Regions from separate parts of the Homo sapiens genome. Here region 2 is linked to region 1. The links come from fine-mapping of genetic effects on gene expression. A gene starts in region 1. The other region holds a variant in brackets. All regions are shown on one strand. Distances are between the middles of the regions. Region 1 holds the start of ADTRP (androgen dependent TFPI regulating protein). Region 2 overlaps ADTRP (androgen dependent TFPI regulating protein).

Region 1 (2,920 bases):
GCACTATTTATGAACCAGGAAACCGACCCACATTAAACACCAGGCACTCTGTCAGCATCTTGATGTTGGACTTCCAGCCTCCAGAACTGAGAAATAAATTTCTGTTGTTTCCAAGCTTCCCAGTTTACAGTATGTTGTTATAGCAGCCCCAACAGATGAAAAAAAAAAAAAAAAAAAAAAACATGGTTACAATGCAGAACTCCATGGCGGGCTCAGGTTTGCTCTCCTCCCATCTCCCAATCCTGATATTGGGAGTCTGTTGACTCTTAGGAGGTGGGTTTGTTTATGGTTTGTCCTCCTTGTCCAGCCTACAGTTCTTTCTGCTAGTACTTTTAAGCCCTGGTTAAGTCATTGAAAAGCACCAATTACAGACTTACATAACTGTGTCAGGAGCATTTCTCTGAGGGATTTGCTCACCCCTCGGAGTCAGTTGCCCAGGGAAACAAGCTGGCGATGTCACAAGGCATCCACTTCTAGTTCTTCCTCAGTTCCCTTCTGTGGAACCTGAGTCAGAGCCTAGTCCGGCATGCTGCCTAGCCCAGCCACGTCTCATCCTATTCATGGCAGAGCGGGGACTCTCACCCTCTCCCAGCAATGTCTAAAGTCAGGTATTTTGGGGTCATGGCCATAGTAAGGATGGTCTCCTGTGCTGCTTCTTCCCTCCCAGGGCACAGAAATGCCTATGCAAATGGAGTGTCTAGGACAGCCCTGGGTTACTCTTGGTTCTCTAGGGTATAGTTACAAAAGTGAAAAAAAAAAGAAAAGAAACCATTGGAGCTGCTCCCTGGAGGATCAAAGGTTGTTGCAGACTTTCTAGAATCTCAGAGACCTCAGGAGCAAAATTACAACACACTTTTCCTTTCTACTGTTCATGCCCTAAGCACACCCATGATCTGGTTTATCAACCTGCTCCTCCTTTTCTCAAGAGATAAGGTTGCAACTTCCTTGTTATATGCAAATGAAAAGAAAAGAGACTACAGCCATGGAAGTATTTCGCTAGATTTTCCTAGTATTTCATGCTTACTTCATTTAACCATGCCCCTGCCCCAGTGCCCTAGTGAAACAGTACAATGTACAGCTCTTGCATTGCTACCTGCCCTTCTCAAAGCCCACATGTTGTATTTTATGCAAATCTACAGATTATCTATCATTATCTAAATGCAGGCATCTGAAAACCAGCAGTAATCCTGCCTCTGAAGTTTATCAGGAAAGGAGCTTAAAAGAGAACCAAATTCAGCCTGTGTTGGAACTCTCAGTCCCAGAGGGGTGTGGTTTGTAGCTCTCCGGCCTGCTGTTGGACTTAGGCTGTGACCCACAGAAGGACGCCAGAAAGTACTCAAGACATTCACGGTGCCCCGGTCAGCACTCGCCATGACGAAGACTTCTACATGCATATACCACTTCCTTGTTCTGAGCTGGTATACTTTCCTCAATTATTACATCTCACAGGAAGGAAAAGACGAGGTGAAACCCAAAATCTTGGCAAATGGTGCAAGGTGGAAATATATGACGCTGCTTAATCTGGTAAGTCCATATGTCCGTACCAGGAACCGATCCATTTCTCTAGAATATCAGTGCTGCCACACATATCATCTTTGGATTTTATTAAATACACAATTTTGTTATTTGTCTTCCTTCTTCACCGTTTTGTGAGTTTTGGGTTTTTTGTTTACTTAACAATTTGCTCTGATAAACCCAATTTGGAAATTATCTATAGTTAACATTTCTATGCTGGCTCATTGTTAAATGCTCTCTTGAAAAAAAAAATCTCATCTTGGAGCTCTTTTCAGATGAGCTCAAAGAGGGGACCATGCTAATGGTTTCACCATGGGATTAACTACAAATGCAGGAGGCATTTTGAACTTTGCTTGGGGAAGTCTGTGAAGAGAAGGCAGAGTGGCGTATGGTGTGTAGGAAGTGTAATTTCCAATGAAGGAATAATGCCATTTTACAGCACACACAGACTAACAGATTTATCTAAGAAAAGCAAACACATTTTGCCATGTTCAGCTCCCACCTCAATTTTTTATAGGTTCAGGCTCCATCTTAAAGGACAAATCACCCAACCGAATGGCAAATACACATTTTCAACTATTTAAAAACCAATCTTATGACTTACTCCTTTCTTGTCTTCCTAACCTGGCTGACTGCATTCTGATGAAGTGTGAATGAATGGGAGAAAAGCAGATTATGAAAAATACTTTGAGGAATAGCTTAAAAAAATACTTTTAAAGTTAAAAGCTAATAATGGGGAATCATTTGGGGATGTGAATTAATATTTGAGGTTTTTGACTAAAATCTTGGGTGCCACATAAACATCTGTTTTCAGAATTGTAATCCTCATTTGACAAGCGGAGAATGTATGTGGTCAGAAACTGTGACACTCTGAAATGCTAAGGACGTGGAAATGGAGAGAGTTAAAATCAAAGAGGCCCAAAGTGGCTGCTTCCTCCTCACTGGTTGGTTAGTGGCCTCTTGATTTGGGCCTGAAAAATTGGAACCCTGAACACAGCTCTAGTGTCTTTGAAAACTTCAAGGTGACTACTTGTTTCAATCATGGAATTTTATGAGAAAAACAAACAGAAACAAAACAAAAAATGTTTTTTGTATAACTAGCAGTGCCACAGTAAACAACAACAACAAAAAACCACACACACACACGCGCATACACACACACCCCTAAGGTTTGTGTCTCTATTGGCTTTCTATGAAAAACAGTCCACTAAAAGGGAAGTGTGTCTGTAGTTAGGACTGACTTTCTAATAAAATCCAATTCCAGTATGAATGTCCTACCTCACACTATGTGTGGCTAAGAATAGATTTATCACCACACTCATTAACTAGCTCCCTTACCTCTTTGTATACACACACACACACACACACAACTGATCCTGACTTTTTAATTCTAGCTCACCTACAT
Region 2 (2,920 bases), 65 kb after region 1:
TAAAGTAGCATTGACAGTATTTGGCAACAAGCACAAAGGATAATGAGCTAATGAAATTTCACAAATTGCAGAGCTTACACAAAGATTTATGATCATTAAATATGGAGTACCAACTTGTTGGCTGAATAGAAGTCATTCTACAAATCTAATGCTATAATTTCAGTAGAATAATGCCCCTCTAATGAGCTTACTCAAACCTAATCCATATGCCAGTACTTTTCCACCAGGCTGATGAATTCATTTGCTAAGAGGTCACAGAATGACCCCAATTAGTTGAACATCCACCCTTCTATTTCCTCTCTAATTTGATGTGGTCTCTTCATCTCCATCTGCAAAGTCTCAAAGTTTGCTGATGGATTGTGTGTAGCCTGCAGACACTCACTCAGAGTCACAGCAATATGCTTCCTCTTAGCTATGCAGAGTACCTGAAGGCAAACAGCATCGTGGGTGCCTGGCTAACTGTGAACCCAGCACTGAGGGAGGACGGCAGAGTTGTTCTCTGCCCCTGTCATCGTGGCAGCTGTTTTTTCATAACTCCTTAAACTGCATCTTGTCACCTTGGGAAAAGTGTGTTCAACTTTCCACTGCCCCAAGTCAGAGTGAATCTCTACCCACAACAAAAATACCCATTAGGGAAAGCCTGAAGCCTGAGGTCTGTCTCTGTTCTTGTTTGTACAGGTGACATGAGGCAGCCACGGAAGAAGAGGAAGTAATTGCACACCATTTTCCAAGAACCAAGAAAGAAGAAAACACAAGAGATTTTTCTCATCTTTTTTTTTTTTTTCTGGTGGAGGGAGGTGGTGGAGGAACATAGCAAAGTAGGAGGGACAGAGAGTGATACTTAAATTTAATAAGAGGTTCGTGAAGGTAGCTTAACTTGAGAACTCTTGGTTTTTTGAAAGGTTGACTGCACATGCCAAAAACAACTCCTGCTATCTCAGAATTAATTATCTTTGACCTTCGTGGAGGATGGTCTCTGGTTAAAATCTGGCCAAAGAAACTCACATAAACTTGGTGTTAGAGAACATCTAGAGAGAGAGAGAGGAACTTAGAGTCATTTAAACTCTTCAGTTTACAGAGAAGGATGCTGAGGACCTAGATGAGAAGTTACCTGCAAAAGGCAAAAGGGTTACTTAGTGTCAGAACCAAGGCAATGACTTCTCTCTCCCAGATCTCCTAGCTACTGGTCCTGGGCCATTTTTTTTTTTTTAAATAATCCCAACTTT[C/TC]TTTAAAAGACAAGCATTTCAGTAAGCTAGTTATTTTCATGGGTTGCTCATCCATTTTTTTCAGTGATCTAAAAATGTAGGGAGATGGCTACTACTGAAGTTGTCTGTCTACTTGGGATAATAGCAAATTAATTGAAGACAATGGGAAAGTAAGTTATAAAAAATACTGGGAAATCTGTTTCTCTTCTGAGCAAGCATTCAGGGCAGGTATAAACATCAAACATAGTGACATTGTCAAAACCTCTTCCATTTGAACATTGATTAATTCATCAAATAAATGGTATAGTAATAAATTTTGCTTGCAGAAGAATCTGGATGGGAAGTGATAGAATTATAAGGGCTGTTGAGATTGCTTTGCTACAAAGCACTTTTCTGAATTAGTGTGTGGTTTAACAAAGCTGATTTCCAGATGCTTAACAAGGATTCATGATCCCTGCTGTGATTTTCCTAGTGTTATTTTCCTGGCCTTTATTTGTGGGCACATTTTTTAAAGAACACAAATGGCAAATGGCTATTGGTGGGTAGACATATTTGAGTCTACTAGTATGTCACTAGGCTCATATGGGTTGGGGTGTGGACACTGAAGGAAATTGGACTTGGACTTCCCAACCTAACATTATGTAGGAGAAATCTGGTAAAAATGAGCAAGAGTGGTCTTGAAGGGTTACAGAAGAGGACAGAATATCTCAGGTGGGAAGGCAGCCTAAGGGAAGACCAGGGCAGGCACCAAGAAACCTGCTTAATTCCCACTTCTTTTTCTACTGTTCTGTTAATATGGGCCTCAAGTCTTTTCCAGTTGGAGCTGGGAATACCACCTCTTTCCCCACATCTACTGCTGCCTCTTCACTGCTCCAAGCACCTGGTCTCAGCAGGAGCTCAGAAACAGTTGCCACAGTGGAAATTCCCCAAACGTGAAGCCCTCGGGGGATCACCCAAATGTTCCACACCCCAGAGGTGACTCGGGCTGCGTAACTCTCAGTCACAGTAAGCTCTTGGTGGGGATGAGCCTGCAAATTTCTATTTGTGGCTTTACTGGCCCTAGGACCAAATTAAACCTTGATTGCAGCATGCCTGGCCATTGTGCAATATCTCTTCCAACACTAGAAATGTCTCGGAACAATTTCCCATTGAGCACATGCCTAAGCACACAAGGGCATGCTCGGTGCTGCAGTAGCTTAAGAAAAGATACACAACAAAACAATAACACACTGATTAAACATTTGCTAAAAGGTATATGGTATTTGCAGATTGCATAGCACTATGTTAGGCCCTTAATAGAAAATGACAACTATAGCAACCACATGATGATACCAGCAATATTTGTGTAGTGTCAAGTAATTCATCACCACTCCCACTTATTCTAGCCCACGGAAACTTCGTAAGTAGGAGATGAGTTACGTTCTCATTTTACAAATGAGCAAACTGAGTTTCTGAGGGTGGTGTGCTGGGAAAGGTTTAACAACCAGCTCTCTGGGGAAAAGATGTCAGGCTCTGATTGATAATGTGTGCTCATTTCCATGGTGTAAACACTCTCCCCATGGCCTTTTTCAAGCTGGCAGCACGTTGCTGAATGTACAGTTGGGAAGAGATGTGGACAACCACTTAGTCCTCGAGAGCCTGTTGTGCAAACTGGCTCCAGCACACCTCTGCGTTCAGAGCAGGGAAATGACAAGTCCAAGGTCACATGGATAGTT

What was found. PIP is the estimated chance that this variant, and not a neighbour inherited with it, causes the effect.
Region 2: its variant is fine-mapped to the expression of ADTRP in blood mononuclear cells (TOPMed, PIP 0.94).

The regions. Positions count from the first base shown.
Region 1 is chr6:11,777,211-11,780,130 of GRCh38, reverse strand. ADTRP (androgen dependent TFPI regulating protein) reads left to right here and starts at 1,328. Exons shown (of 6, transcript NM_032744.4): 1 at 1,328-1,524. The coding sequence starts at 1,372.
Region 2 is chr6:11,712,271-11,715,190 of GRCh38, reverse strand. It overlaps ADTRP (androgen dependent TFPI regulating protein), which reads left to right. Exons shown (of 6, transcript NM_032744.4): 6 at 679-1,668. The coding sequence ends at 713. Among named protein-coding and RNA genes, the nearest start is that of ADTRP, 65 kb to the left of the region's middle. RefSeq lists an enhancer at 666-815. The variant C/TC (reference allele first, on the strand shown) is at 1,227.